6 separate regions of the Homo sapiens genome follow, and regions 2, 3, 4, 5 and 6 are each reported to be linked to region 1. The links are microRNA targets in miRTarBase. Many come from high-throughput screens and were not tested one by one. Region 1 holds a microRNA gene; each other region holds the end of a gene's coding sequence.

The links. Region 1 holds the annotated microRNA hsa-miR-151a-3p (CUAGACUGAAGCUCCUUGAGG, at 1,920-1,940, opposite strand). A microRNA usually pairs through its seed, bases 2 to 8, with sites in the 3' UTR of a target mRNA and lowers its output. Matches are read on the target gene's strand: a 7mer-m8 pairs with bases 2 to 8, a 7mer-A1 pairs with bases 2 to 7 and ends in A, and an 8mer does both.
Region 2: miRTarBase lists SAE1 as a target of hsa-miR-151a-3p. The part of its 3' UTR that is shown has no 7-base or 8-base seed match.
Region 3: miRTarBase lists MEGF9 as a target of hsa-miR-151a-3p. Seed matches in the 3' UTR shown: 8mer at 2,659-2,666 and 7mer-A1 at 1,139-1,145.
Region 4: miRTarBase lists ZBTB24 as a target of hsa-miR-151a-3p. Seed matches in the 3' UTR shown: 7mer-m8 at 1,738-1,744.
Region 5: the mRNA of TCOF1 is a reported target of hsa-miR-151a-3p. The part of its 3' UTR that is shown has no 7-base or 8-base seed match.
Region 6: miRTarBase lists HADH as a target of hsa-miR-151a-3p. The part of its 3' UTR that is shown has no 7-base or 8-base seed match.

The regions. Positions count from the first base shown.
Region 1 is chr8:140,730,668-140,734,667 of GRCh38, forward strand. It overlaps MIR151A (microRNA 151a), which reads right to left and starts at 1,986; the gene lies at 1,897-1,986. All of the region lies in intron 25 of PTK2 (protein tyrosine kinase 2), which reads right to left.
Region 2 is chr19:47,208,252-47,213,251 of GRCh38, reverse strand. SAE1 (SUMO1 activating enzyme subunit 1) reads right to left here. Exons shown (of 9, transcript NM_005500.3): 9 at 2,616-4,093. The coding sequence ends at 4,001. Among named protein-coding and RNA genes, the nearest start is that of MIR3190, 16 kb to the left of the region's middle. RefSeq lists enhancers at 2,226-2,520, 3,512-4,261.
Region 3 is chr9:120,601,532-120,606,531 of GRCh38, forward strand. MEGF9 (multiple EGF like domains 9) reads right to left here. Exons shown (of 6, transcript NM_001080497.3): 6 at 1-4,110. The coding sequence ends at 3,659. Among named protein-coding and RNA genes, the nearest start is that of CDK5RAP2, 24 kb to the left of the region's middle.
Region 4 is chr6:109,462,181-109,467,084 of GRCh38, forward strand. It overlaps ZBTB24 (zinc finger and BTB domain containing 24), which reads right to left. Exons shown (of 7, transcript NM_014797.3): 7 at 414-4,394. The coding sequence ends at 3,671. It also overlaps a transcript of MICAL1 not described here. Among named protein-coding and RNA genes, the nearest start is that of MICAL1, 8.9 kb to the left of the region's middle.
Region 5 is chr5:150,397,934-150,402,495 of GRCh38, reverse strand. It overlaps TCOF1 (treacle ribosome biogenesis factor 1), which reads right to left. Exons shown (of 27, transcript NM_001371623.1): 25 at 4,045-4,142; 26 at 3,426-3,474; 27 at 2,203-2,686. The coding sequence ends at 3,448. CD74 (CD74 molecule) reads left to right here. Exons shown (of 9, transcript NM_001025159.3): 9 at 246-857. The coding sequence ends at 256. Among named protein-coding and RNA genes, the nearest start is that of CD74, 13 kb to the left of the region's middle. RefSeq lists enhancers at 378-647, 2,208-2,287, 2,358-2,447, 3,008-3,077, 3,358-3,517 and 1 more.
Region 6 is chr4:108,033,525-108,038,524 of GRCh38, reverse strand. It overlaps HADH (hydroxyacyl-CoA dehydrogenase), which reads right to left. Exons shown (of 8, transcript NM_005327.7): 8 at 3,354-4,286. The coding sequence ends at 4,168. Among named protein-coding and RNA genes, the nearest start is that of HADH, 46 kb to the right of the region's middle.

The DNA.
Region 1 (4,000 bases):
AATCATAACACAAAATTTTAAAGTGATAATTGTGTTTACTGCCCTAATTTGCCTAAAATATATTTAAGAATTTTAACATTAACCTAAAATATTTTTCTAATATGAGATAAAGCTGATGTTCTTTTTTAAAATAGTGGTACCAACACCTTAGTCAAGAAGAGTACTGTTGGGACATATTATTTTTGAACATACCTGCAAAAAGGCAAATAATAAAGCTGTTTATTATGGTTTCCCTGTCATAGTACCTAACAAAGAATTAACTGAAGTAACCAGGAATTAAATTAAACCCCCCCCCCCCTTTTTTTTTTGAGACAAAGTCTCACTCTTGTCTCCCGGGCTGGAGTGCAATGGCGCAATACCGGCTCACTGCAACCTCTGCCTCCCCAGGTTCAAGCGACTCTCTTGCCTCAGCCTCTTGAATACCTGGGATTACAGGTGCCTGCCACCACGCCGGGCTAATTTTTGTATTTTTAGTAGAGACGGGGTTTCACCATGTTGGCCAGGTTTGTCTCGAGCTCCTGACCTCAGGTGATCCACCTGCCTCGGCCTCCCAAACTGCTGGGATTACAGGCTTGAGCCACTGCGCCCGGCTAAATGATTTTTCACTCAAAAAATATTTGGTGCGCTCTTATAACCTGACAGTCATAAAGCACAAAAATGCTAGAGTACGCATTATAAGAAAATTTCACTGTTGATCAATTGAAAGTATTCCTATTGAGGAATTTTTTATACTTGATAATAGGCCACTGGCAGGTTAATCTCATTCTACTTCTCAATGAATTCATACCTATGAATAAGTAAACAGGATGTAGGAAGGACAGGTTCCTTGAGTCACAGACATCACCTCATCAAAGTAGGACCAAGGTGATTTTCCTATGAGTTTGCCCAACATGTTCCATACCAAAAATCACTTCTCAACTAATATAGTCAAAAACAAATATACAAGGCTGGGCATGGTGGCTCATGCCTGTAATCTCAGTACTTTGAAAGGCCAAGGTGGGTGGATTGCTTGAGCTCAGGAGTTTGAGACCAGCCTGGGCAACATGGCAAAACCCCATCTCTACCAAAAATACAAAAAATTAGCTGGGTGTGGTGGTGTGGTGTGCATGCCTGTAGTCCCAGCTACTCAGGAGGCTAAGGTGGGAGAATCACTTGAGCATGGGAGGTGGAGGTTGCAGGCAGCAGAGATGGTGCCACCGCACTCTAGCCTGGGCAACAGAGGAGACCCCGCCTCAACAAAATAAAATACACACGCATACACTCCAGTTAAAGATGAGGGGAATCCCACAGTAATTTGAGTCTACTTGCAAATATTCTTTCAAGGTAGGGAAGGAGAATTCTTTCGAGGTCAAGAAGAAGAATGGGATTTGGGAAACATTTTTAACTACCATAATTTTAACGACCAAAGGGCTATCCAAACTTATTATTTCTTTGTTAAAATCTTGGAAATAATAAAAATTTTGAAAAAAATTAATAACCTATTTAGTTATTGTGATACACTGTTATATGCAAATGTCCAAGTAAGCAATTATATTATATAGTGACATTTTATAATATAAAATGGTGGCCTATTTGGTAGCCTAATTGTATATGTTCAAAACGCAAAGTTAAACACCATTTCTAAAACAGAACAATGCAGAATGAATGAATGCTCAACTACCTGTGCTAGTAGTATATAAGAAGATATCCATAAATTATACTACAGGTACCTATTTAAAGTAATTATATGTAGTTCTAAAAATATGTATTGGATACTTTTTGGAGATAATTTACCTCAGTGGAGCATTCCTTAGTATTAAGAATCACTCATATGTTCTAAGCCTTGAATTCAGTGCCTGGGTGACTCTTCCTGTATCTAGCTAGCTAGGCTACTGGCCTGGAGGTTTGGGCAACACCGAGGTGAGTATGACCATCCCTGTCCTCAAGGAGCTTCAGTCTAGTAGGGGATGAGACATACTAGACTGTGAGCTCCTCGAGGGCAGGAAAAGTGTTTTAGTCATCTTTGCCCCAGTGACTAGCACCAGGCTCAGCTACTGTAGGTGCTCAACAGTGTTTATCGAACTGAATTGAACACGGGTTGCAGCCATCTATAGCAGCATAGGGTAAGCCTGACAAGAAGAACAAAGAGCTTTGGAGACTCAGAGGGTGAAGGCTAGTCAGCTGTGAAGTCACAGAAGACCCAGTGCGTGAAAGAAGCCGAGAAAGATGGGTAAGATCTCCCCAAATGAAGAAGGAGGCATTCTGGGCTGACAGGAGGGTTAGTTTAGCTACTGTGTGTGAAAGGGATGAGAAGACAATCTCAGGCCATAATGAAATGAGGCCTAAATGTTACTGTGGAAGCCTTTACCCAAACATAAAAGGTGACAAAACCCCACTGAAAGTTGTTTTGACCAGGGGAGTTATTTTTCCAGTGACATTTCAGGAAGATTGACTAAGCTGGTCATGCCAGACAGATGGGAAAAGAGCGTGGGATGGAGGGTGGGGGGCAGGCACAAGGAGTGAAGCATGACTCCAAGATGGTGCCGAAGATAAAGGCACTATTCCAACCTGGAGGAAGTGAGGAGGAAGGGCTGGCATAGAAGAGAATGTAACAGCTTGCTTTCTGGATAAACATGATGCCCAGCCAGCAATTTAAAATGTAGGTTTGGGACTTGAGAAAAGGGCAGGACCAGAACTATAGACAGACAGAGGTAAGCAGCAAAGCCATGTGAATGGGTCAGACATCCTGGGAAGAGTAATGAGAGAAAATGGGAGAAAATAAGAGGCTGAAAACAGAAATTTGGTTAATATTCATGGTAAAGGTGGAGAGATGGCAAGTCAATGAGGTAGAAAGAGATGCCAGGGAGGTGGGGTGATAGAACTGGTATCAGAGAGGAACAATGCCAAGGACAGAATCTGTCAAATCCTGAGGAAAGATCAAGGAGGAACAAATAGGAGCAAAACAACATGCAATAAAGCATGTCCAAAAGCCAGCTGTAAAGGTGAGAGAATAGGCAGTTAAGTTATATGAGAATTAATTAAGGAACTGAAGATTTTTGGCTTGAAGAAACTAAGAGGAGGTAAGGAAGCTGTTTAGAATTACCCTGAAGGCCTATCGTGTGAAAGGCAGAGTAGGGTTGTTCTATGGGGCCTTGAAAAGTAGAACCAGGCCGGTGTGTGAGAGTTATGGGGACGGAGACCAAGAGCGTGGCTGGTCTTTCCAATGTGGGGCTCACTGTATTGTAATAACCAGTGATACCTCGGTCTCCTCCACCAGACTTTAAACTCTCTGGGGGCAGGGATTGGGTCTTGTTCACTGTTGGACCCACAGAACCTAGCTTAGAATAACAAAGGTGCTTAGCAAACATTTTCAGACTGGATGAATCCTTTGTGCTTCTACCTATAGGTCTTAATTCTTCTTTGAAATACTCTCCTTAAAAGGAATCCTGTCTAGCAGGTTGAACAGCTTGAACATGTGGTGAGAAGGCTGGGCTAGATGGTGAAAGGCCTGGACCCTGCAGTTGATGATTTTTAGGAAAAAGACTAAAATACAGCATGAAAAACAAACCCATAAAAACTCACATAAAATGGAGGAAGTCCCCAAGTGTGAAAACAGGTGACACAGCACACACTGAACCATGGTATTGTTTATATAATAAAGCTTCTCATGCCTATGTGTTATATTACAGTATCTTGTTTATTACAGTATTAAGTCTCATTCTAGACTCCAATTCAATTCAATTCAACAAATGTTTATTGAGCACTTATATGGTGCCAGGTTCTAAGCTTGGCATTGGGGCTACAGAAATCAGTAAGACACAATGATGCCCGTCAAGAGCTCTGAGTGTAGCTGGGGACATGCACAAGCGAACAAGAACCTCTCCAGGCCAGGCAACAGGGTAGAGTATGCACATGCTTCTCTGAGGGATTCAGCACACTAATGTCCCTGCGTGCTTCCTCCAGGGGTTTAACAGTACCTGGCACAAAGTAGTAGCCACAAAATGGCACCTGAACAAGCAAT
Region 2 (5,000 bases), not on the chromosome of region 1:
CACAGCAGCAGACTGATTCAATAGTTAATGGTTCACCTGTTTTGGTTATGGAATTTGATGCATGAAATACTGACAAGGATCTCCAAGACATATTGAGAAAAAAGCACATTGGAGAAAAAGTTATTTATGAATATGTAAAATAGCAGCTAACATTGAGCAATATTGATTCAAAGACTGATTTTTTAATCCCCACATATCTGAGGAATGTGCCACTATTCTACCCATTTTAGGGATGGGGTAACAGAAAGTAGTGTAGCGAGGGTCACATGGCTGAGTGGTAGAGTCTAGGTTTGAACATGGCAGTCTGGAAGGATTCACTCTCAACAGTTAACAGGGGTGACCTCCGGGGAGTGGATATGAAAGTGGATAAAGCTAGGCTGGGCGCTGTGGCTTACACCTATAATCCCAGCATTTTGGGTGCTGAGGCAGGTGGATTACTTCAGGTCAGGAGTTCGAGAGCAGCCAGGCCAACATGGTGAAACCCTGTCTACTAAAAGTACAAAAATTAGCTGGGCATGGTGGCCGGGGCCTGTAATCCCAGCTACTTGGGAGGCTGAGGCAGGAGAATTGCTTGAAACCAGGAGGTGGAGGTTGCAGTGAGCCGAGATCACACCACTGCACTCTAGCCTGGGTGACAGAGCAAGACTCCGTCTATTAAAAAAAAAAAAAAGAAAAAAGAAAAAGAAAAAAAGAAAGTGGATACAGCTAACATGTCCAAAAAGCATCTCATATTTCTCTCCAAAATGCAGTTTAGCTGTGAAGTCAGCTGCTCTTATTATGTGGCCAACATTGTGCTGACAGGCTGTGCCCTGCAGCGGAGAGGAATCTTCTCTTTATGCTTGTATATTGCTTGAATATCGTACAAGCTTAGGAACCAAATCCACCCACCCTTTTGGACCTAGTTGAAGGCCCTCTTTTATGAAGGCCGACATGATGTTTTCCAGTGACTACTGGGTCTCAGGGACTTGTGAAGGGAAGCCCAAAATCTTGTTCTCACTGAGCGAACAAGCCGTGCCACTACATGAATCTCTACTGAGTGCCCCGCACCGCAGCTTTCCCAGTCAGCGCCATTTCCATCTCTCCCTTGCTTGTGAGGTGAGCCTGTTTCCTTATCTCCAGTATGGGTAGGAGAACAGCATCTATCCCCATGGGGTTGCTGTGGGGATTCCAACTCAAAGAACAAGGATTCTGAAAAGTACCAGGCAGGTTGCATGGGTATAATGACCATTGGTTGTTATCATTAAACTTACCACCTGCAACCTAAGCCATCTCTTCCACACCTGTAATGAGCTAATAGAACATACGTCAAGATAACTTTTTTTTTTTTTTTTGAGATGGAGTCTCGCTCTGTTGCCCAGGCTGGACTGCAGTGGCACGATCTCGGCTCACTGCAACCTCCGCCTCCCAGGTGCAAGCGATTCTCCTGCCTCAGCCTCCTGAGTAGCTGGATTACAGCCACGCGCCACCATGCCCAGCTAGTTTTTGTATTTTTTTTTTTTAGTAGAGACGGGGTTTCACTATGTTGGTCAGGCTGGTGTTGAACTCCTGACCTCGCGATCCGCCCGCCTCGGCCTCCCAAAGTGCTGGGATTTTTTTTTCGAGACAGTGTCTCACTCTTTCACCCAGGCTTCAGTGCAGTGGTGAAATCCAGGTCATTTCAGCCTCAAACTCCTGGGCTCAAGTGATCCTCCTGCCCCAGTCTCCCAAGCAGCTGTGACCACAGGCACAAGCCACTATGCTCAGCTATTTCTTTTTTTGTGGAGATGGGGTCTTGCTTTGTTTCCCAAGTTGGTCACGAACTCTTGGGCTGAAGTGCTTCTCCCGCCACAGCCTCCCACCATGCCTGACTGACTGCAGATTTTGAGATGGAGTGTCACACTGTTACCCGGGCTGGAGTGCAGTGGTGCGACCTCAGCTCATTGCGACCTCCGCCTCCCAGGTTCAAGTGATTCTCCTGTCTCAGCCTCCCCCAGTAGCTGAGATTACAGGCACCCGCCACCATGCCCGGCTAATTTTTGTAATTTTAGTAGACAGGGTTTCACCACGTTGGCCTGGCTGCTCTCAAACTCCTGACCTCGTGATTCGTCCGCCTCAGCCTCCCAAAATGTTGGGATTACAGGCGTGAGCCACCACGCCTGGCCTTTTTTTCTTCATTTTTATGATTAATACAAACATCATGTGGCAGTTTATGAAATTTGTAGAAACTAGACATTTCTTGCCTGGGGCTGGCAGCTTTCCCCTCGATTCCTGAGGGGTCCTCTGGGTGACTTAATCTCTGCCGTTAGAGGTACAGGGTGGAAAAGTTTGAAGCTTCCGGGACGATTCTACAATTTTGTTTTTATCAATCCAGACCCACCTGCTCCCCCTTGTGACCAAGGCTGCACATTACAGTCAAGAGTATAATTAGCTCAGAATTTAAAGACCACGTGAAATTCATGCAGCAATGTAACTGCTGACCCTGACGCCACTGACTTGCACTAAAGGTGGCGAGACACGGATCCTTTCCGAAATGCAGCCCCTGTCTCACCTCCGGCGGGAGCAGGTGATGCAGGGTTGAGGAACAGAGGCCCTTCTGTAGTGAAGACCACTTTTCTCCCCGACTAACTGCTGCAGGATCAGAATAGGAAAGAGACTGATTTATTGAAACATCACACAATTTACATAAAGAAGAAACACAAGCAAGAGTGGGGTGAACTGGAACGCACTTTGGCTGCATCAAGGCAAACCTGGTCTTCCAATAAAAGCTCTGACCCGTAGCGGCTGTGGCACTTGGGGCATATGAAGCATCACTTTTGACTTCCCTTTATTATTATAATTCTTGCCACTGAAAATAGCCACTATTTAGCTGAATTATCCATTAGACAACTGGAGCCAGAAGCTTCTACACATTCTAGAATGTGAACAATTTAACTCTTGCTGCATCACCCAGAAAAAATGGTGGCAGGAATGGTGAGGGAGAGGAGGAATCTCTTGAGTTAGAGCCTCAGGTCTGAAAAGGCAACTGGTAGGATCATCCCATTCCCTCTCAGAAGCTTCTGAAGTGGAAGAAAAACAAGCAAATCCTAAAGCAAGTAACTTTATTATCATTCCTTTAAAAAGAACCAAGGAAAATTCACAACATATGTGAAACACAAACAGCTGTGGTTTAGGAGGTAAACAAAGGACCAACATAGCCCTGAAATGCAACAGCCTCTGAGTGACTTGAGCCGCATGTGACTGGGGTTCTGTTAAAAGGGCAGGCTCCTCCCTCCTAGCCCTGAAGCCCCAGGAACCTGCCTTGAAAGACAAGCTCTCTAATACTCAACTTGCAGGGTCTCGCCCTAACATCCAAGACTTGGTAGCATCTCCTTTCTCCCAAAACCCAGCTGGAACTCAACTAATCCTAAACGAAAACTCAAGAACAGCACACCAGATGCCACCTGTTGTTTGTCAGGGTCTCAAACTCCAGAGGAAATGCATTTGCCTGTCATGGTTTTCCTCTCTAAGGGCACCTGTCTGAACTTGGAGCTGTGCTTCCACTGGTGCCTCATGGGGCCTGGGCCTACTCTCCACCTGAATTCACACTTTTCTCTATAAGGTATCAGGTGGGGAATAAGTCCAAGAAGGTGACAAGAGGCTCCCGAGCAACAGAGCTTGCTCATTCCTGGCAGGCATCTCCCACAATGCCCCAGAGGGCTGGCGAGGCCGGGACAGCATAAGGACAGAGAAAGGGCAGAGGGGTGCTTGGAAGTGCTCATCACTCAGGGGAGCTGGCAGGCCCGGGATGACAGGCAGCCTGAACAGTGCTGGAACAAAGACAGCCACCCTGCGCCCCTTGTCGAGCAGCTGCTGGTGATGGGAAGCAGCACGTCGGCACCACCTCCTTCGTTGCAGGAAATGTTTTGTATCGGGCCAATGACTTCAGTTTTCCTTGCCTGGAGATGCCTTCATGAAGGAAGGGGACAGGGAATACAGGTGGGCATGCTGCAGTTGGCATCTCTGGGGCTGCCAAATCTTGAGTTCACTTGGGGCCAAGGCACTCCACAATCCCATTCCCCTTCATGCCATCGAAGAAGAAGAAGTTGTTGTGAGGAGGGTCCCGCTGAGACAGGGCCTGGGGAGAAAAATGAAAAGAGGGTTTAGCTCAAGTGCTTTAAGAGGAATAGAGGGAAAAAAAAATTCTAAAAGCAGTCTAGGGCAGTGGTTCTTAACTGGGGTCGATTTTGCTCCCAAAGGGCTATTTGGCAATGTCTGGAGACAATTTTGATTGTCCTATCTCCTTGCTCTGTCCCTTACAAGCTGTGTGTCCATGGGGAGATTATTTAACCTCTCCAAACATTACCTTATTTTCCTAACATGAGATTAAGAAATGTATTTGCCTGGGTTAAACTATGTATCTCAAAAATGTAAAACAGGCCAGGGCCAGGCACATTCACACCTGTAATCCCAGCACTTTGGGAGGCTGAGGTGGGAGAATCACTTGAGCCCAGGAATTCAAGACCAGTCTGTGCAACATGGTGAGATCCCGTCTATATGAAAACTAAAATAGGTGGGGCGCAGTGGCTCACGCCTGTAATCCCAGCACTCTGGGAGGCTGAAGTGGGCGGATCACCTGAGGTTGGGAGTTGGAGACCAGCCTGGCCAACACGGTGAAACCTGTCTCTACTAAAAATACAGAAATTAGCCGAGTATGGTGGCATGCTACTCGGGAGGCTGAGGCAGGAGAATTGCTTGAACCCAGGAGGCAGAGGTTGCAGTAAACTGAGATTGCGCCACCGCACTCCAGCCTGGGCGACACAGTGAGACTCTGTCTCAAAAAAAAAGAGAAAAAGAAAAATGACATAAATTAGCCAGGTATGGTGATGCATGCCCAAGGTGCCAGCTACTCGGGAGGCTGAGGTGGGAGGATCGCTTGAGCCTGGGACATTGAGGCTGCAGTGAGCTGTAATAGTGCCACTATACTCCAGCCTGGGGAACAGAGTGAGACCCTGTCTCAAAACAAAAAACAAACAAACAAAAAA
Region 3 (5,000 bases), not on the chromosome of region 1:
GAATATTGGCGCTAGAGAACAGTGATATAATTTGAGGTGTCTACAAATGTTGTCTAAAAAACCTCTCTCCTCTCATCCCATGTTTCCTCTGTTCTCTACTCTTAAAATCTAGGTATCACTGGGAAGAGTAACGCACTAGGCCCACAGGACCTTAGTATTAATATAAATGAGCTTTAGTTTTCAAATGTCATTTTTTTCTCTATAACTGGAGAAATTCCATTAATAAAAGAACCCTAGGGGATAGAGGGTAGAGGGAGCGAGAGGGGAGTAAGGGAGGACACGGACATACTTAACACTACCTAGGGCACCTAACCATCAGAAATGCATAGGCGCTTACCAAAATGAATTAATGAAGATAAAAGCATCGCTTAATGGCAGTATCTGTAATTTCCAAATAAGATTCACATCAGTGCTATCTTATTTAAAAATAAACAGATTTCCAATCCTTACACAAACATTCTCCCAATATTAGGCTTTCTTTTTCTTCCTTTTTTTTGAGACAGAGTCTTGCTCTGTCGCCCAGGCTGGAGTGAAATGGCGCCATCTCGGCTCACTGTAACCTCTGCCTCCCAGGTTCAAGTGATTCTCCTGCCTCAGCCTCCCAAGTAGCTGAGACTACAGGCACGTACACCCGGCTAATTTTTGTGTTTTTAGTAGAGACGGGATTTCGCCATGTTGACCAGGCTGGTCTCGAACTCCTGACCTTGTGATCCACCCGCCTCGGCCTCCCAAAGTGCTGGGATTACAGGCGTGAGCCACCGCACCCGGCCCAAAATTAGGCTTTCTAAAGGACTGATGGCATCCTGCTGCCAGATGCCACAGTTTATGGGGCCCATGCCTTTAGAGGAAAGAACATTGTGCAGTGCATCCCATGCTAGTTTCCTAGAATGATTTCAGTGGTAGATCACTTTCTGATTGATTTATATTTTAAAGCAAATTATTTCCAGAATCAAAAAGCTCGAGACATTAGAGGATCTTATTTAAAACAAATTTTAAGACTTTTTTTCCCATTGAGAAAAATTATAACCATGATCTAGGAGCCATTAACAAGTATTTAAAGGTAAACTTTCTTTGTGATTCAATTTTTCAATACCTTTTAAGGTCTGTTTCAAGGAATTTCTACATGGTCAAAATCCTCTTAGACTCCAACAAACCTCCTTTCTCTCTATTGGTTTAACTTCTGTTTAATAAATGTTCACTTCTCACCACCTTTAATCCTGACCTTTTTTGGGGGGGGCAGGGGGCGGTGTATCTGGGAGAAAGACAGGTATGCCATTTTGCACAATTTCTTAGAATTGTGCAGTCTGTACACACATATGCAGCAACTGCTAGGGAAAGCAAATTTTCCCTTCCTGCTTGGAGAGATGAGTTCACCTTAATGAAGCACAAACTGGCAGTTTTGTTTTCTAATCACTAATACTAACTTCAGTTAGTAAATCTTCTTGTGTTCTTTTCACTAAGTGCTTCATAGCTGTATGGCCCTGGATTGCTCCTGATATTTAAAAAAAATTAAAAACATCCACAAGTAGAACTCTTCCTCCCAGCTTTCTTGTGTCCATGGCTAGGCAATTTCTGCATATAGTTGAAAAAACATGTGCTTTAGAGTTAGAGGCCCTGATTCCAAGCCTAATAATCACACACATTGTATAGCCTTGAACAAGATATTTAGCTCCTCTGTGCCTCAGCCTTTTCATCTATAAAATGGGGACAACAATTACTTCCTCAGGGGGCTATGGTGTGGAAGAGAGGACACACATATGGAAAAGTGCTTTGCAAACTACAAAGGGCTATAGAAAAACTAAATAATTTTCATATAATGTAATATAATGTAACCTCTATTCTTCTGAGCAATGGCCAAATACGCAAAGCACCCTCAGATTACCAGAAGTAGATTATTTGCTTGTACTCCCTCCAGAACATCATCTCCAAACCCTGAGAACAACTTAGGGGTCTCCTATAAAGGGATGACCAAGTTCTAGGTTTTTCTCTAGGGAAGTTAGGCAAAGGGGTCAGCTTGAATTTCCTAGGTCTAATCTAATAAGAAGTTTTTATTTTTTTTCTAACCACTTCACAGTTCACTGTTCCTCCTAATAAGTTATATTTAACATCTGACCACCTTTCCCACCCACCTTGCTTAACCCAAAATGTCAATATCATAATAAACGAGAGCAACAGTAGTTGGCCTCTAGGAAAAAACTCCATCAAAAAGCAAGAACTAACTAGACACACCCATCTACAAAGCTGCTCATTAACCAGACAGGAAGACAATGGGAGAACTATAGCACTGCAGGGAGATGGCACATACCTCATGGCAAATGAGTGACAGGCTATGTTCACATGTAGGAGATTTTTTATTTGGGGTGAGGGAGGATTATAAATATTTCATAGGCATGAAAACTACAGATCCCAAGTAATATGATGGCTTTTCTCTTGGAACTAAAATATTTCTATCCTTTGGAAGACTATCTTTTACATTCAAGAAAAACATTTTTTAATGAGGATATGTTTTATATTAATCTATGTAAAATATATAGGGTGGCTAATGTCTAATTAGATTAATGTTTTTGGAGAATGCATCCTATGTCCCAGCTTAACGATTACTGACTTCAAAATCTATTGCTTGAATCATAGTAAGTCAAAGAGCATATAACTCTACTTTTAGACTGAGAAAGGAAAGAAAGAAACATTCGACCTCTTATAAATTTCAGCAATGTCCTCAAGAAGGACTAAAAATGACGGATGCTCACCAGAGTCCCAGCTCTAGCAATATTGCCATCTATTTTACAGTATTTTAAGCAATCCCCATATTTTTCTTTTTACAACACCATTAACTGCTGTACAAATAAATTCCAGATGATAAAATATGACATGATTTTTTTTTTACAAATAGATACAAATACAACGTCGACCAGATATGCTACATTAACTATGTACACCTTATTTCTCTAGAGGCAGGAATATTCCTTATTTTTAGACAATTTATCATTTACACTGAGACCCTGAGGAGGACCATCAGCCTCCTGCTCCCCAATGCTGCCTTCCTCCCTTAGAAGCTTATCCTGTGCTTTCAACTCATCACTGAGCAAGAATCCTGGGAGGAAAAAACCAAGCCCTTCTGAAGATCTTGGGACTTTTCTACCCCTGTTCTAGAAACAATCAAGATTATTTACTGTGATACAGCCTAGAAACAAGCTTTTCCTCAATGATGTCCTTTTGTATAGTAAAACGAATATAATCCCTGACACTGTTTTAAAAAAAATGTTTCAGGAATGGAGATGAAGTCTTCCAGCAGTCTTTTCCCCCTCCACATTCATCATCTTGTTACCACTGGCTTGGTGAATGCTTCCCCAGGAGTCTATCTGGAGGTCAAAGTGGTTTTGGGCTGCACTATGGGGTTCAGCCTTTCCATACTCCCATGTGGTTTGGTACAAAAATATACTTTACTTCAAGTCCTAATGACAGTGAACGCTTCAGATCTTCATGGGAAAACTAAGAGCAATAGATAGGCTAAGCGCATTACAAATTTGTACCTGAAAATTTCAGATGCACTATTTGCCTTTGCTTTCTCAGCAAACTCTAGCCAGGCTTTGTCTGGCCCAGGGGCTGACTCTGTCTTAGCAAGCACTGTGGTTTAACAATTCAGAACAGTTCTAGCTCCTTAGGCTTTGTAGTTATGTATGGGCGTCGTCAGGGTCAGCTGCCCATTGGGAGCCACTTCATTGCCATCATCTTCCAACAATCCCGAAACATCTGCATTGGGAATGCTGTCATGGTAGCTGCTGAAACTGATATTGTCTTCTTTCAGCTCGATGGTCCAAAAGGGGGCATTGAGTTTCCGGTTTTGGTACTCGCGGTACATATATACAGCCCCCACAAATCCCATTAGCAGCACCACAACAATGATGATGACTGTCAAAATGATGATGTTAAATTGGGTCCATGATACATCAGCTAAAGCTGAAGTGCTGTTTTCAGAAGTGCTTACTGAAAAGATAGTCTGCAGGGTTGTAGGGGTAAAAGTACTATTTATAACAGGGGTGGGCACTGATGTGGTCAAAGAGGCATTGGAAACCAAAATGGTAGAACCTTCAGGTGTTGGAAGAATAACTTCTGAAAATAAAAACAGAGAATGAAATGTAAAAGACAAAATTATCTAGTTTTGAGAAACAATAAAAGAAATACGCATGGGAGTGAATGTTGATGTAGGATGTTAACATGATATTCTGCTTTAAGGTAATGCAAGTTAAAAATAATGTTTAAAGAAATATAGTGATAAGGGTAAGAATCAGGGTCTAGAAAGCTAGATTATTACATCTATGGCTGTTTTCCAATATGTATAATATCTACATTAAAATCTTTGGGCCGGGCGTGGTGGCTCACACCTGTAATCCCAGCACTTTGGGCGGCCGAGGGTGGTGGATCACGAGGTCAGGAGTTCAAGACCAGCCTGGCCAAGATGGTGAAACCTGTCTCTACTGAAAATACAAAAAATTAGCTGGGCGTGGTGGCGGGTGCCTGTAATCCCAGCTACTCGAGAGGCTGAGGCAGAGAACTGTTTGAAGCTGGGAGGCAGAGGTTGCAGTGAGCTGAGATCATGCCACTGCACTCCAGCCTCGGTGACAGAGCGAGACTCTGTCTCAAAAAAAAAAAAAAAAAAAATCTTTGGGAAAATACCAGTGTTGGAGTTTTCCATTCTTATTTACTCTTAGATAAAATCATATAAATTCCTGCAAAGGCAGTAAATTTGTCACTACTGAGCTCTAAATCACATAGTTAAAAGTAACAGGGATATATGGCAATCATTTGAACAAAAATAAGTCTAACAAGTCTGATGGCATTTCATAAAGGTAAAATAATTATCTGCAAAGGAGGTGTAGGGAAAACTATACCTCTAGTTATGTCTGAAAAACAAATTTTAAATGTCTGAGGCTGACATCAGCCAAGAGAGAAAACAGCTTTCCTTAATTCCATGTGTAGGAATTCTTCCTTTGTGTAGATTA
Region 4 (4,904 bases), not on the chromosome of region 1:
AAAGAGAGTAAGACAGAGGGAAGGACATGTGAAGATACAGGCAGGGGAAGACAACTAGAAGGGAGGCCTCAGAAGAAACCAACCCCACTGACACGTTGATCTTGGACTTTCTATTTTTTCAGTCACCCAGTCTGTGGTATTTGTTATGGTAGTCATGGCAAACTAATATACCAGTCATGAACAGAGGGGACTGGAGTCCTCCAACCAGAGGGTGCTATATTGTAAATCTGTGTGCCATGACATGGAAGATGTTTGAGACCCAGTAAGATATGATACAGATTTAACAGACCTGGCTTGGCTCCTGGACAATAGTAAGGACTCCATATTTGGAAGATATTGTTACATTCCCATTTATGAAAACCTAGATAAGCATCTATAATGAGAATCCTAGGTAAGCATTTATAATGAGAATCTTTTTTCATTCCTCAGCATCATTTAATCTGTTGCTCACAACATTTATAACACAAGAACCAACTGTAGAAAATACAGAGTAGAGGTGAGTTTCAAGAAGCACTGGGCAAGCACTTGAATAACTGATTTTGATGGTAAGAGCTCCAATCATCCCAAGGCAGACCCTCTTCTGGGAGAAAACCAAAGATTCACCTTCAAAACGAGGTGTTTCAGGAGCCCCAAAGCATAACATTCTATTTCCTAAGAAACACACTCTATATTTCTGTTAAAACAATTTAAAAAATGGTACACATTTAGTAGAAAATGAATTGTGAAACACTGCACTAGCAACATCATTTCTCAAGGACACATGAGAAGTACTTTCATGTTCACGACATTTCTTTTGGGTACTCAAGTCATTTAACTTTTTTTTTTGAGACGGAGTCTCGCTCTGTCGCCAGGCTTGAGTGCAATGGCGTGATCTCAGCTCACTGCAGCCTCCGCCTCCTGGGTTCAAGTGATTCTCCTGTCTCAGCCTCCCGAGTAGCTGGGATTACAGGGGTACACCACCACGCCCAGCTAATTTTTGTATTTTTAGTAGAGATGGGGTTTCACTATGTTGGTCAGGCTGCCCTCGAACTCCTGACCTCGTGATCCGCCCACCTTGGCCTCCCAAAGTGCTGGGATTACAGGCATGAGCCTCCACGCCCGGCGTCATTGAACTTTTTTATTCAAAGGGGTAGAATGTATATGTGGGACAAAGAAAGAGGCTAGATTAACAAAGCTATCATTTCCTTGTTTCTCTTTGACAGCTGGTCAAATAATTCAGGCATAGCTAGGACTGATGCTCAAGTTAGAAACAGGTGGCCCATGCTGTCCAATATAGCAGCCACTAGCCACATGTGCTTATCAAGCATTTGCACTGTGTCCCATGCAACAAGGAACTGGATTTTAATTTTAATAAATTTAATATAAATTTTTAAACTGATACTTATTTCAATTCTTGAAAAAAACTTTTGTCTTAGCTACTTGATATGAGAATCTGTTTTCAACTGTAAGTTGTATGAAATCTAAATACAGATCAAGTATGTCCAATGAACATTAGCATCCAAATGGAGATGTGCAGAAAGTGTAAAATACACACCAGATTTCGAAAGCTTAGTATGAAAAAGAGAATGTAAAATGTCTCACTAATATATTTTTATATGTTGAAATATTTGGCAAATGTTGGATTAAATAAACTTTTATTAACATTTTCACCTGCTTCTTTTTATGTTTTTAAAAGTTGCTACTAGAACATTTAAAGTGACCTATGTTGTTCATGTTATAGTTCTCTTAGTGTAGAGGTAGACTGTTATAGAGCCAGTGAAACTTGACTTATAAATAGCTATGTAACCGTATTTTCTGAATAATCACCTAGCTATCCAGAGTGAGTAAACACTCACTTACTTAAATATTTAATTTCCTGGAGAAAATGTGGATTGGTGGGCTTTGAAAAGTTGGTAAAAACTTTGTGTTTTAAGAATAAAATTAAACAGTTTAAACGAGAACCTGAAATAATACTTAGGGCTTAACAGTGTTTGTAAAAAATTGTTATCTTTGCTCTAGTCAGGCCTGATTTAACATTAGTTTGGTTGATACATATAAGATATATATCATTTTGGAAGTTTTGTGAATTACATATAATAAAATATAGCTTAGCAAATATGCAACCAAAATGTTTTTATCTTCTCTCAAACCTGAAGAATTCTCTATTACTCTAACCTCCAAATAACTTATTTGATTTAGGGAGAAATCAAGGATGTCTAAAACAAAACAATTGATGGAAAGGCTCTATTAATTTTAGAGTAGATTACCCCCTACTCCCCATCAGCATTGTTAATTTAGATATACTAGTGCCCACCTTCTTTTCTCAAAAATCCCCTACCAGCTTACATGAAAGTGGTAAAAGAATTCAATAAGCTTAGCTTGAAAACCTAACCCAAACATAATTTAATCTTTTGATGATGATTTAAAAATCATACAATTACAGACACATGCTGGCTACAAAGTCTCTGAGGCTCAAAGTTTTAAGATTAGATGAAGATTAGCTGGGTGTGGTGGTACATCCCTGTAGTCCCAGCTACTAGGGAGGCTAAGGTGGGAGGGTTGCTTGAGCCCAGGAATTCGAGGTTACAGTGAGCAATGATTGTGCCACTACACTCTGGCCTGGGTGATACAGTGAGACCCTGTCTCTAAAAAAGGAAAGATTAGGAGAAGATATTCACTTTGTGGGATTTAACTAGTCTGCAATAAAAATGAATTATAAGCTTCCATCTCCAGAAAGTTATCAGACACAACACGTAGATCAACATTTTCAGGAGATCAGTTAGAATTCAGTAGAGTATATATAAGACTTAAATTACACTGAATAAAGTTTTATGTTCCAGAATAGTGAAGAAAGCTTTACCTTCATGAAAATCAAATCTCTTTTCTGACAAAAATTCAGAATTTAGGGTGAATGTCTTGATCCAATTTTGTATTTTAAACTTAATTAAAATTTTGATAGCCTTCTGTTGAAAAATATGTAAATTTATGTTTCTCAGAAAAGACGAATTCAGAATTTTAAGAAATCCTATGCTTTTGGCTATCTTGTTACATGAATTTTGAGTTAAAATACTGAGTTTATGAGTTTGAATCTTTCTGAAGTGTTAACACAATAAGCCCACTGTACTGCATAAAGATAAAACGTTGAGGGTTACTTTGTCTTAGGGGACTGGAAATTATTAAAAGGGCAAATTCCCCATACATTGTGATCTGTCATATTTAGCCCTGACTTGTCTTGTGGTAACAACTGTGTTGCCTAAGAAAAATAAGAAAATAGAACAAACCATTCTGCCCAGTTCAACCAAAATGACTCCCTTTGTCCTAGAAAACAAAAAAACATAACTGGGGAGGTTGGCAAGACCATAACCTATGGCTGTGAACATTTAAACCTTACAGAAAAACTGAGATCAATGCCCCCAAAGAAAAACTACCCGAGTCTTTATGAGACATTGCAGATTAAAATGAAAACCATTCAATAATATTGAAATGCTCAATACAAATCAGTACCTTAGACAAGACATACACACATCTTGCTACCTGGATGGAGGGCATTATAAACATCAGTTAGCCATCACAGCTCTCACAGAAGCATCTGCAAGTCAATGGTGTGGAGAGCCTGATTTCAAGCGTTCAAAATCCAGTCAGAGCTGGCTTATAAGAAGAGCCCAATCAAGCAGTCAAACGTGTTTACAGGTCAGCTCTGCTCCTGGCCAAGTGGCGTTGGCTGGGGCACGTGGTGAGTGGGTGGTGGCGGACCAGGCTCCTGTGTCAGCTGCAGGTGCTGAGCTGGATCTGAAGTACTTGTAGCTAAATGGAGCTCCTCTGTTTGCTCTTGATGGGCATGAAGATGTTCCAGTGTTTCCTTGGACAGAGTGATCACGTGCACTGGCTCTGTTTGTGAGGGCCCCATCTGGCTTTCAATCATATTGAGGCTCTGAATGTGTTCTGTTTGCTCCTGTTGAGCTGAAAGAATTAAATTCTGCAGTTGCTCTGGCTGCTGCGTGAGCAGGGTAAGATTAGCAGCCTGGTCTGCAGTCATGTTTTGGGAACTCTCTGCAGTCACAATGCTGATTCCCTGGCTAGGACCGGGCATGAAATTGATGTTATGTACAGAATCGGTTACGAGAAGCTGAATTTCCTGCTCTCCCGAGGTAGAGAGTTGATATGGCTGTAGCTGAAGAATATTCCTGACCTCTTCTGTATTACTACTGCCAGAAATGCTGCTGGCATCTGAAGCATGCTTCTCCTTGCTATGAATTTTCAAGTGAGCCTTCAAGTTGTCTAAGCGAGCAAACTGTAAGTTACACTCAGGGCAGGAGAAAGGCTTCTTGCCAGTGTGTAGAATGCAGTGTCTCCTTTTGGCACTGGAGTCAGAGAAGGATTTGCCACAAATGCCACAGGAGTATGGCTTTTCTCCTCTGTAAGAAAATAAACATTTTATTTTTAAAATGGAAATACCTACTTACTACTTCCTGATTATTTAGGGGGAAGCAATCAAGAGTAGTGGAAAATTAACTAGACTGCAAGTCATAAGTCATGGGTTCACCTACTAATTCAAGGACTTGAAGCAAGTCTCGCTTCCATGGGCAGTTTTTAATCTGAAAATAGGGTGTGGGTGGTGCCTGAGGAAGGGTGGCAGATGGGGCACGGCTATATATGATAAAATTTTATGATTCCACAGTATGTATTTCAGATAAGAAAAGAGAGTAAATATTTATACAATAAACATATAGTTCTCTTTTGTTTTGTCTTAGTTTTCAGAGCCAATTTTTAGACTCTAATGGCCCAATAAGTATCTATGATTAATGTCAATTTAAAAAATTTAAGCATCCTCTAATTATTTGTGATGCTGTCAGAAGAACTCCTAAGTCCAACCTGGGGATAACTGTGTAAACAAAAACATTTATTCAGAAAACATCAAATTTAAT
Region 5 (4,562 bases), not on the chromosome of region 1:
GGCAGGTGAAGGAGTGTGACGCTGGGCCACTCTCCAACATTCCTGGGATGTCCATTTCACAGACGAAGGAACAGGGTTGGGGGGCTGTGGGGAGTTACACAAATCCATGATGGTCATTATTGGACCTGAGCAGGGGGCAGGGGAGGGTGGACAGTCCTTAACTGCTCTGCAGGTCCAGGATGTTAGAAAGGGGCAGGGACAACAAATGGGTGACCCCAACCTCAACCTGCTGCTTCTCTCTCCAGTCCCCATGTGAGAGCAGCAGAGGCGGTCTTCAACATCCTGCCAGCCCCACACAGCTACAGCTTTCTTGCTCCCTTCAGCCCCCAGCCCCTCCCCCATCTCCCACCCTGTACCTCATCCCATGAGACCCTGGTGCCTGGCTCTTTCGTCACCCTTGGACAAGACAAACCAAGTCGGAACAGCAGATAACAATGCAGCAAGGCCCTGCTGCCCAATCTCCATCTGTCAACAGGGGCGTGAGGTCCCAGGAAGTGGCCAAAAGCTAGACAGATCCCCGTTCCTGACATCACAGCAGCCTCCAACACAAGGCTCCAAGACCTAGGCTCATGGACGAGATGGGAAGGCACAGGGAGAAGGGATAACCCTACACCCAGACCCCAGGCTGGACATGCTGACTGTCCTCTCCCCTCCAGCCTTTGGCCTTGGCTTTTCTAGCCTATTTACCTGCAGGCTGAGCCACTCTCTTCCCTTTCCCCAGCATCACTCCCCAAGGAAGAGCCAATGTTTTCCACCCATAATCCTTTCTGCCGACCCCTAGTTCCCTCTGCTCAGCCAAGCTTGTTATCAGCTTTCAGGGCCATGGTTCACATTAGAATAAAAGGTAGTAATTAGAACACTCTGGCTCCTGGCTCTTCTGTTGAGATCCAGTTCATTTATCCTAAAGAGGTAACTAAAGACGCTAAATCCAGTCACTGAGGTGGGAGAACGCAGCCCAAGTAACCCACAGAGATGCCTGCGGGGCCAGGCAGGCCTGGGGGGGGGCTTGTAGTCTTTGGACACAGACATACTTGATTACATGTTTAACACACACGAACACTCTACTTCCAAAAAGAAATAGGCTCTTGCCTAGTTTAAGCACAAGCTCTTCTTGGTACAGCTTTCATTTTCCTATGTCCCCAATTTCATTTCTATACTAAGAACAGTGTGAATGTGATGACAGATGGCAACCGACATAGGGCCTCCGTGTCAGGATGGACAGGAAGTAGGGGACTGTGGAGAACTGGGTGCCCATGCCTTACCTAAGGGGCTGACTGCTACTCAGCTCTATCTGGTTGCTGCCAGGAGGAAGCACAGCCCCCGTTGCCAGATGTTATCTTTTTAAGAGGAGCCAGAAATCAAGAACTGCAGTGAAATCACCCCATTTTTAAGTTTAAAGTCTTGCTGTGGGTCAACAAGGCCCAATGAGGACACTACTCTGTAGTTCTGTTCTAGAGCAACATGCTTGAGAGGAGAGAGGCCAGATGGTGGAGGGTCTGGCCCCGGGCCCCGAGTCAAGGGTGCAGCTGGATGCCAACCTGGGTCTCCGACACCTCCAGCCATGCATTCCTTTTCTGCACTGCCTCTGGCTGTTTCCAGCATGAGGCTAAAAGCTCTGGAGACCATCTCCAGGACCCCTGGTGTTCCACATGGCTCTGGGCCCAGGGAAGTGGGCTTCTGCATTTCCAGGCTGGAGCAGCAGACCACCTCCTTTGCTATCCCTCCCCTCCCTCAGTCCACACCCAAGACATCATCCTGTCTTTCATGTTCATCCACTTCTTGCCCTCACCACCACAGAACCATGGTGAGCTCGATTTGAGGGGCAACTCACTTCCGATTTTCCTAGACCTGCTGTGCCTGCCACAGCTGTTCACCAGGCACCTCCAGGGAGCCTGCCCCTAGCTCGAGGCCTAACTCGAGGATTCTCAGCCCCTTCCATTTCTTGTCTTTGGGTATTTACATGACTTACTCTGGCAACAGGAAATCAACCATGACCATCCTTTAGTTCCATCCTTTAGTTTAGATGCCACCTCATCCAGGAAGCCTTCCCCACCAATTCGGCACTCAGGCACTTCACTGCTCACTGCCTGTCCCACTAACCACGGTCACCCATAGCCTCAACATGCAGGCAAGAGGGAATCCCGAGTGTCGGCGAGACAGTCCCTTCCAAGAAACATGTGCCCCAGATGCACTGGGAGCTTGCACCCTTCCTCCAAGTCTTTTATTTTTTTTTTGAGTTATTAAAAAAAAAACAAAAAACACAACCAAAAGAACTGACGAGAGGAAGACAAAGCCTCGGGATCAGCCAGAGACCGAGCGGCACGGGATGAGGCACAGGTCAGGCCTAGCTGGATCTGTGGAGCAAGGTGGTGGGAAGTCCCGAGGCCTTTGGGCATGTGGGGTCTGTGGAAGGAGAGGAGGTCACTTAAAAAAATACATATACTGTACACATCTATATGAAGCGTCCTGTGTTGGGGGAGTGGGGTGAGGTCATGGGAGCTGGTCCACTTTCTCCTTGGACCAGCCTCCCCGCAGGCTCACTGGCTTGGCCAGCACAGGGACCCCTGAAGCTGGCTGTCTTCTTCTGTGGAGCGAGGGAAGGTAACAGTTTAGTTCCAACCCATGGTGGGCAGAGGTCGGTGGAGGTCAGAGGCATGGGGATGGCCACTGCTCGGCTAGGAAATCCCTAGGGGAAGGAAACACATGCAGATGTCAAATTTCCTGACCCTTTTCCCCTGCAAGGAAAATGAAATCTGGCATCTCCAATGCAGGGGGGAGGCATTAACCACAGTGGACATTTTTTAGCACTTGGAATGTTCTGAGAACTGGGCTGAGTCCTTTAGTGTTTAGTTTAGCTTCACATAAGCCTCACCACTGGCCCAGGAGGCGGGCTCTGCATCACCCCCATTTACAGGAGGCTGGGTGACCACAGGGCCAGCAGAGCCAGGTGGAGCAGCTAACTGTCACCACCACTTGGCAGGGCCTGTCCTCCATAGGGAAGCATAGATCCATGGTGATAGCTCATCTTGAGTAAACCATCTTCCTTCCCAAAAGGAAATGCCCCCAAGTTACAGGATCATGAGGAAAATGAACCGCTCACAAGTGAAGGAGGAACCAAGCTGTATCCGACCTCACCTACAAACAGGCTCCATCCCAGGGCACACCCCCTAAAGCATGCACAACCCCTGCACCCAGGTGCACTCGGTGTCACCACTGCCATTACTGTTCTGGATCCTTCTGATGCTGCAGTGCCAGCTCCTGATGTCACCCCAGTGGCCCCATGGACCCTTGGCAACAGAACCTCTTTCCCCAGCCTCCTTTCCCCTTAGAGCCCACCTATCAGGTCTGCCTGGCTCTCTGGGACCACAGGGGACACCAGAGCTGTCCTCCCACCCTGAATGCTCAGGAATGATTGGGAAGCGTACCTGTGCCTGGTGCTGGTGCTCGTCATACAGTCTGCTCTGCTGTCTTCTTCTGTGAGGAGGGAAGTACGAGAGGCTCTCAGACCTGCAGCTTTTCCCCACCCACTGCTGCCCCCACCTCCTGAGGACTAGTGAATTCCCCTAGAATAGATACTGGGTCTGCAGCGACCTCCAAGGGCAGAGGCAAACAGATGTTCAGCTCTCCTAAATACAGCTGAGGCCCTGCTGGCCAAGGTGAGAACTTCATCTGTGTCTGAGGTGCTAAGGCCCCGCGCCGTGAGGACAGCTGTTGTTCAGGGCTAGCCTGCCAGCTGGGGCACACGCAGCCCAGGCAACGTTTCCTTTCACCTGGAAACCTGCCACAGTCTACCTGGTTTCCCTGTGCTGGGGGGAGTCTCTCCTTCCTTCCCCAACACCCTTCTACCTCCGGCAGGCCACTTCTACGGCTTCCATGTGCTCAGGGAACATGCCCTGCCAGCCTCTTCCCTGGTGTGTCACAACCCCTGACGCCCCCGACTGGGCCCCGAAAATGGGAAGGGGGCAGGAACCAGGTCTGGGTGTGTAGGAGGGGGCTTGGGTTTGGGTCTGTTTTCTGGCCTGAGACACCCCAGGAACTCTCTACCTTTTTCTTCTTTTTCTTCTGGGACGGTGACTCAGAATCTTTGGTTGAGGCCTTTTTTGCTTTCTTCTTCTTTTCTTTTTTTTCTTTGTCTTTTTTTCCTAAGGGAAGTAAAGTAAAGTTCCTGAACAACAGATGGTAATCCTAAGTGCTGGGGTCAATGTTGGGAGGTGCACAGGGCAGGGCTCCCAGCTTTCCCCACACCACCAGAAGCCATCACAACAGGCCAGCAGGGCGGGGCGTGGAGGTTCATTCCTGCAATCCCAGCACTTTGGGAGGCTGAGGCGGGTGGATTGCTTAAGCCCAGGAGTTCAAGACCAGCTTGGGCAACATAGTGAGACCTGTCTCTACAAAAAATACAAAAATTAGCTGGGGATGGTGGTGCACGCCTGTGGTCCCAGCTATTTGGGGGGCTGAAGCAAGAGGATCGCTTGAGCTTGGGAGGCTGAGCCTGCAGTGAGCTGCGTTCCTGACACTGAACTCCAGCCTGGGTGACAGAGCAAGACCCTGTCTCAAAAAAT
Region 6 (5,000 bases), not on the chromosome of region 1:
GGTTCTCTGTCTTTCAGGAGTTAAAGTCTGTTATGCCATGTCAAATGGTAGCAAGAAAAAAAATGCTAAAATAGACATTAAAACTGTGATGATGAAACAGTGAGACCAATTTAAAAAATAGAATTTACACAGCCAAATGGATTCTTTCAAAGTATAGTACTGAAAGCACAGCCATGATTTCATTGTTCAAAGCATTTTTTCGATTACTATTTATGTAGCATCAATGCCTGTTTATAAGAAAATTAGTCTCATAAAATTATAGCCACACCTTATACTTTTGGTAGACTTAATGAGTTACTTAGGTTGAAATGTTAAAGGGATTAAAATCAAGGTGGGGACAAGACAAAAGCTTGTTTCAAATATGTGAACGGTATAACTCACAAAGAAAGCATAATTAGTGTATGTTGTTGTATAAGCTGTGACTAACATAGTGGCTGTAACCTCTCCAATGATGACTAGTTGAATCTCAAATGGGTTTCTGAAAGCTGATGTGTTAGTCAAAACACTTACTATTAACGGAACCCAGTGGAGAGTCATTTTCTTTTTTTTTTTTTTTTTTTCTTATTTTTGAGACAGAGTCTTGCTCTGTTGTCCAGGCTGGAGTGCCATGGTGCCATCTCAGCTCACTGCAACCTCTGCCTCCTGGGTTCAAGCGATTCTCCTGCCTCAGCCTTCTGAGTAGCTGGGATTACAGGTGCCCGCCACAACGCCTGGCTAATTTTTTGTATTTTCAGTAGAGACAGGGTTTCACTATGTTGACCAGGCTGGTCTCAAACTCCTGACCTCATGATCTGCCCCCCTCGGCCTCCCAAAGTGCTGGGATTACAGGCATGAGCCACTGCACCCAGCTGAGAGTATTTTCTAACACCGGATTTGTTCATAGTAGTTTCCGAGTTCCAAGACATGGTTCCACCTACCCCCACGCTGTGTCATTGAAGTTCCCAAAGTGGAAATACGCTTTACAATTGATGTCAGAAAAAGTTAACCATTTTCCCCAGAAAAACTACTATTAACAGTGAATCTTAAGAACATGAAAGGGCCATGATTTTCATTTTACAAAGATATCTTGAGTTAAAACGATCCTTCAGAGAACTCCATTTTACTAAACAGAATTGAAGTCTAGGTGATGGCTATCAGAGGCTCACCATCTTTTTCAGCAAGTCATCTCATAAGTTGCCTGGTTTTCTTCTTAATCTCAAACTTTCACTTGTATTATAGGTAAATAAAAATATCACTGGCCGGGTGCAGTAGCCCACGCCTGTAATCCCAGCACTTCAGGAGGCTGAGGTGGGTGGGTCACGAGGTCAGGAGTTTGAGACCAGCCTGACCAACGTGGTGAAACCCCGTCTCTACTAAAAATATAAAAATTAGCTGGGCGTGGTGATGTATGCCTGTAATCTCAGCTACTCGGGAGGCTGAGGCAGGAGAATCGCTTGAACTCAGGAGGCGGAGGTTGCAGTGAGCTGAGATTGCGCCACTGCACTTCAGCCTAGGCGACAGAGCGAGACTCCGTCTCAAAAAACAAATAAATAAATAAAAATATCACTAAGGGGAAGCATAGGAGAGAGGAAAAAAAGTGGCCAAGTACGGTGGCTCACGCCTGTAATCCCAGCACTTTGGGAGGCTGAGGCAGGCAAATCATGAGGTCAGGAGTTCAAGACCAAACTGGCCAGCAATGGTGAAACCCCGTCTCTATTAAAACTATAAAAAATTAGCCAGGCATGATGGCACACGCCTGTAGTCCCACCTATTCGGGAGGCTGAGGCAGGAGAATTGCTTGAACCTGGCAGGTGGAGGTTGCAGTGAGCCAAGATTGTAACACTGCACTCCAGACTGGGCGACAGAGCAAGACTCCATCTCAAAAAAAAAAAAAAGTATCCTCTTGACCTAAAACTTGGTCTTTACTTTCAAGTGTCATAAAAGATTCATGACGGTTAGGAGGCAAGTTTGGGGAGGTGAGGAGAACCAAGAGCAGTGACACCAGGCCCAGCAGCACTGCCAGGACCCACCCTCCCTCTTGAACAAGTGCTGCCAAAACACAGTGGAGGATGATGCAAGGCACCTGGGGCTCTCACTGAGGCTCAGTTCTTAACCACAGACTGAAGCAAACAGCAGCAGCGGGCCTATATTTGGAAGCAGAGAACCTGACTGACATGACCTTCCCTCCCCCCGCCCCAAGAGCTCTCCGTGGCAAGCAGCTACGTTCACCTGAGAACGCAGAGACATGGAGTTGGGAAAGAAAAAGCTACTCCCTCACCTCCCATGTCTAAAGGAAGGATGTTCAAAATTCCTTCCTGGTCCCAAACACGGTGCATGGAAAATATTTTTTGAAAACGATAAAAGGATATTGAGAGGCTAGGCCTTTTGACTATTTGGTAGGCTTAAAGTGTATTTTAAAATGCCAGCCAGAAAGACTGCTGCAGCCCCTACCTTCTCATCCCGGCAGTCTGATAGTTGCATTGCTGAGTTACATCTTTCCTGGAATTCAGTGGTCAAGAAAGAACCCTGCCATTTCCAGGACAAGGGCCTGCATCCTATGGGGACTCTGGTGAGACAGTAAGGAAGTGAAGCCCCCACTTAGGCCCAGGGCTCATGCCAAAGGTCAAGAGCCAGCCTGAGAGAGCAGGGAGCTGTCAGACCACAAGGGTAACCTTTAGCGATGGAAATGCGGGTGGCCTCACAGGTGCTTCCTTTGGTTCGTTAGGCAGCATTTTATAAGAATAACCTAAAAGTGTCCTACCCAGGTTCTATGTGCGGTACAAATGCACCGATGTATTTATTTTCCCACTATGTTATAGATTCAAAATTTTTAAAATTAATAAGCTCCCTTTTATCAGTCATAAAATGAAGAAAAAAAATCTCTTGACTATTAGACCTATGACCCAGAACACCAAACAAGGATGCCCATTTTAGGGAGAGTCCTGTCTGAAATTTTGGATCGGAGATTTTCAAATGGGCTATTTTGTACTTAATTTTATCAAAACCTAGTTCTAGTCTAGGCTATGTGACAAAATATCTAGTGACTTTGGGCACATCCCTTAAGCTTTCTGCTAATGAGGCTATTGGACCTCAGGATTTCTGATGTCTTTCCAACTCCAAAATTCTATCTTGGAAGACACTTTCTTAAGCCAATGATTAAAAGAAGCTTACGTTACACTACTTCACTTTGTTGGCAAAGAAGAAACAGATGTTCCTTAAAAATTGTTCTCTGTGCCCTTATTACTGCTTTCCTGGTAAGAAATCTGGCAGCGACGGCCCCAGGCAGGTTTTACACAAATGCCTTGTCCTGCCATTCCCTCCCCGTCACTCCCACTTTAAAAATTAACAGCAGGTCAAAGAAGAGGAGAAATAGCTTCTGCCTAAATTACCAACTTTTACTTTTATAATCATTTGAGTGTATTACAATTTTATATTATACATTTTTTTCAATTCAAATTTTCAGACTGAAACATTGTTATTTTAGTAGAGTCAATTTATAGGCAATTTGCAACAGTGATTTCTCATGGAAAAAAGACACAGACAGACAGTAATCATTCAGATCTGTGGAACTGAATGACCATGAAAACCGACCTCCTGCAAACCATGCAAACAGAGATATGCTGACCCATTCAGCAGCAGCATCTTCACGACGAGCTGAATAAAGACACATCTTATGTCATGCCCAAAATGTAGGGCAAGACTCAAAGCTGCAGGTAGTAAAATGTTCTTATAAAGGCAAGATCCAGGTGCTGCTCGCTGCAGTGCTTCACAGACTATACCACTTGCTTGCCAGTGGCTTGTGACTCTCCCACGCAGCAACAGTGAGCATGGTGCACTCGCACTCTCAGAGGAAGTACTTTCCCGTTGATGAGAGAAGGAATCTAGGCAATTCTTCACAAAAATGACAAGGTTCAAAAAACATGTTTGCTCCAAGGCACCAAGGGTGTAAAGCTGTTTAGAAAATACACAGAAATGAACAGACTAAAAAAGGGAATTATTTCTTAATGGAGAATCTATTACTGCTGTAACTGGTGTAATAATCACTTCGATAGATTACAATCAAAATGCACATTTATTAAACTGTACTGTGTGAGGGAATGTCTGACCAAAGAGCATTCCCACAGGCACTCGGGGCACTGGCTGGAAAGCGCTCTCAGGTGTTCTTCTCAGAGCCGGAGAAGCTGCACATCACTTGTATTTGTAAAATCCTTCTCCAGTCTTCTTGCCGAACTTGTTCTCTGCTACCAGCTTATTTAAGGATGGGCTGGGCTGATGTAATGGGTTCTCTGCATCCATTTCATGCCACCCTATTGAGCGGAGGGAAGAGAACTCAGGATGAAGTGCTGGGTTTATTTTTACATCTTGGCATTTCCAAGGACAAGTCTGGAGGCCTGCCTCTGATGTGGGAGAGCCCCCCAGGCATGGCGCCCCTCCGGCCACCACTGCAGAGGCACCAAGGAAGGCTGTGCTGGTGCAGCCACATCAGCCCCAAAGCTGCTGCACTGCCACCCACCTGTGCTGCCTGAAGCCTGGCCCTACTATGGTCCTCCTGCTTATCCAGTGTCTTCTCAGAAATCACTACGGCCAAAGGCCCAAGTACACTGACAGAAGCCATTAATTTGCTGGTTGGATTCATCACTGGCACAGTTAACTTTCAGAATACACGTTAAAAAATCTGCATTCCTGCCATTGGTATTTTGCATCCACATAAGATTCAAAATTTAATTCTTCAACTAGCATTCTGTGAAACTTGGGAACAGATAGCTACATTCAACTTCAGTAGTCCAGTTTTAATTATTATTTTTACCCTGTCTTCAGAGCTTTTACATTACAATGGATATATTTTTTAAAATGGATGTGTATCTTGCTTGCAATGGAGGTTACACAAATCTATTGATGTGATAACACAGTGTACCAGTGTCAATTTCCTGGGATTTAATATTGTACTATGGCTATATAACCACTGGTGGAAACTGGGTGAAGGGCACACACACAAGACCTGTCTGTGCTATATTTGTAAC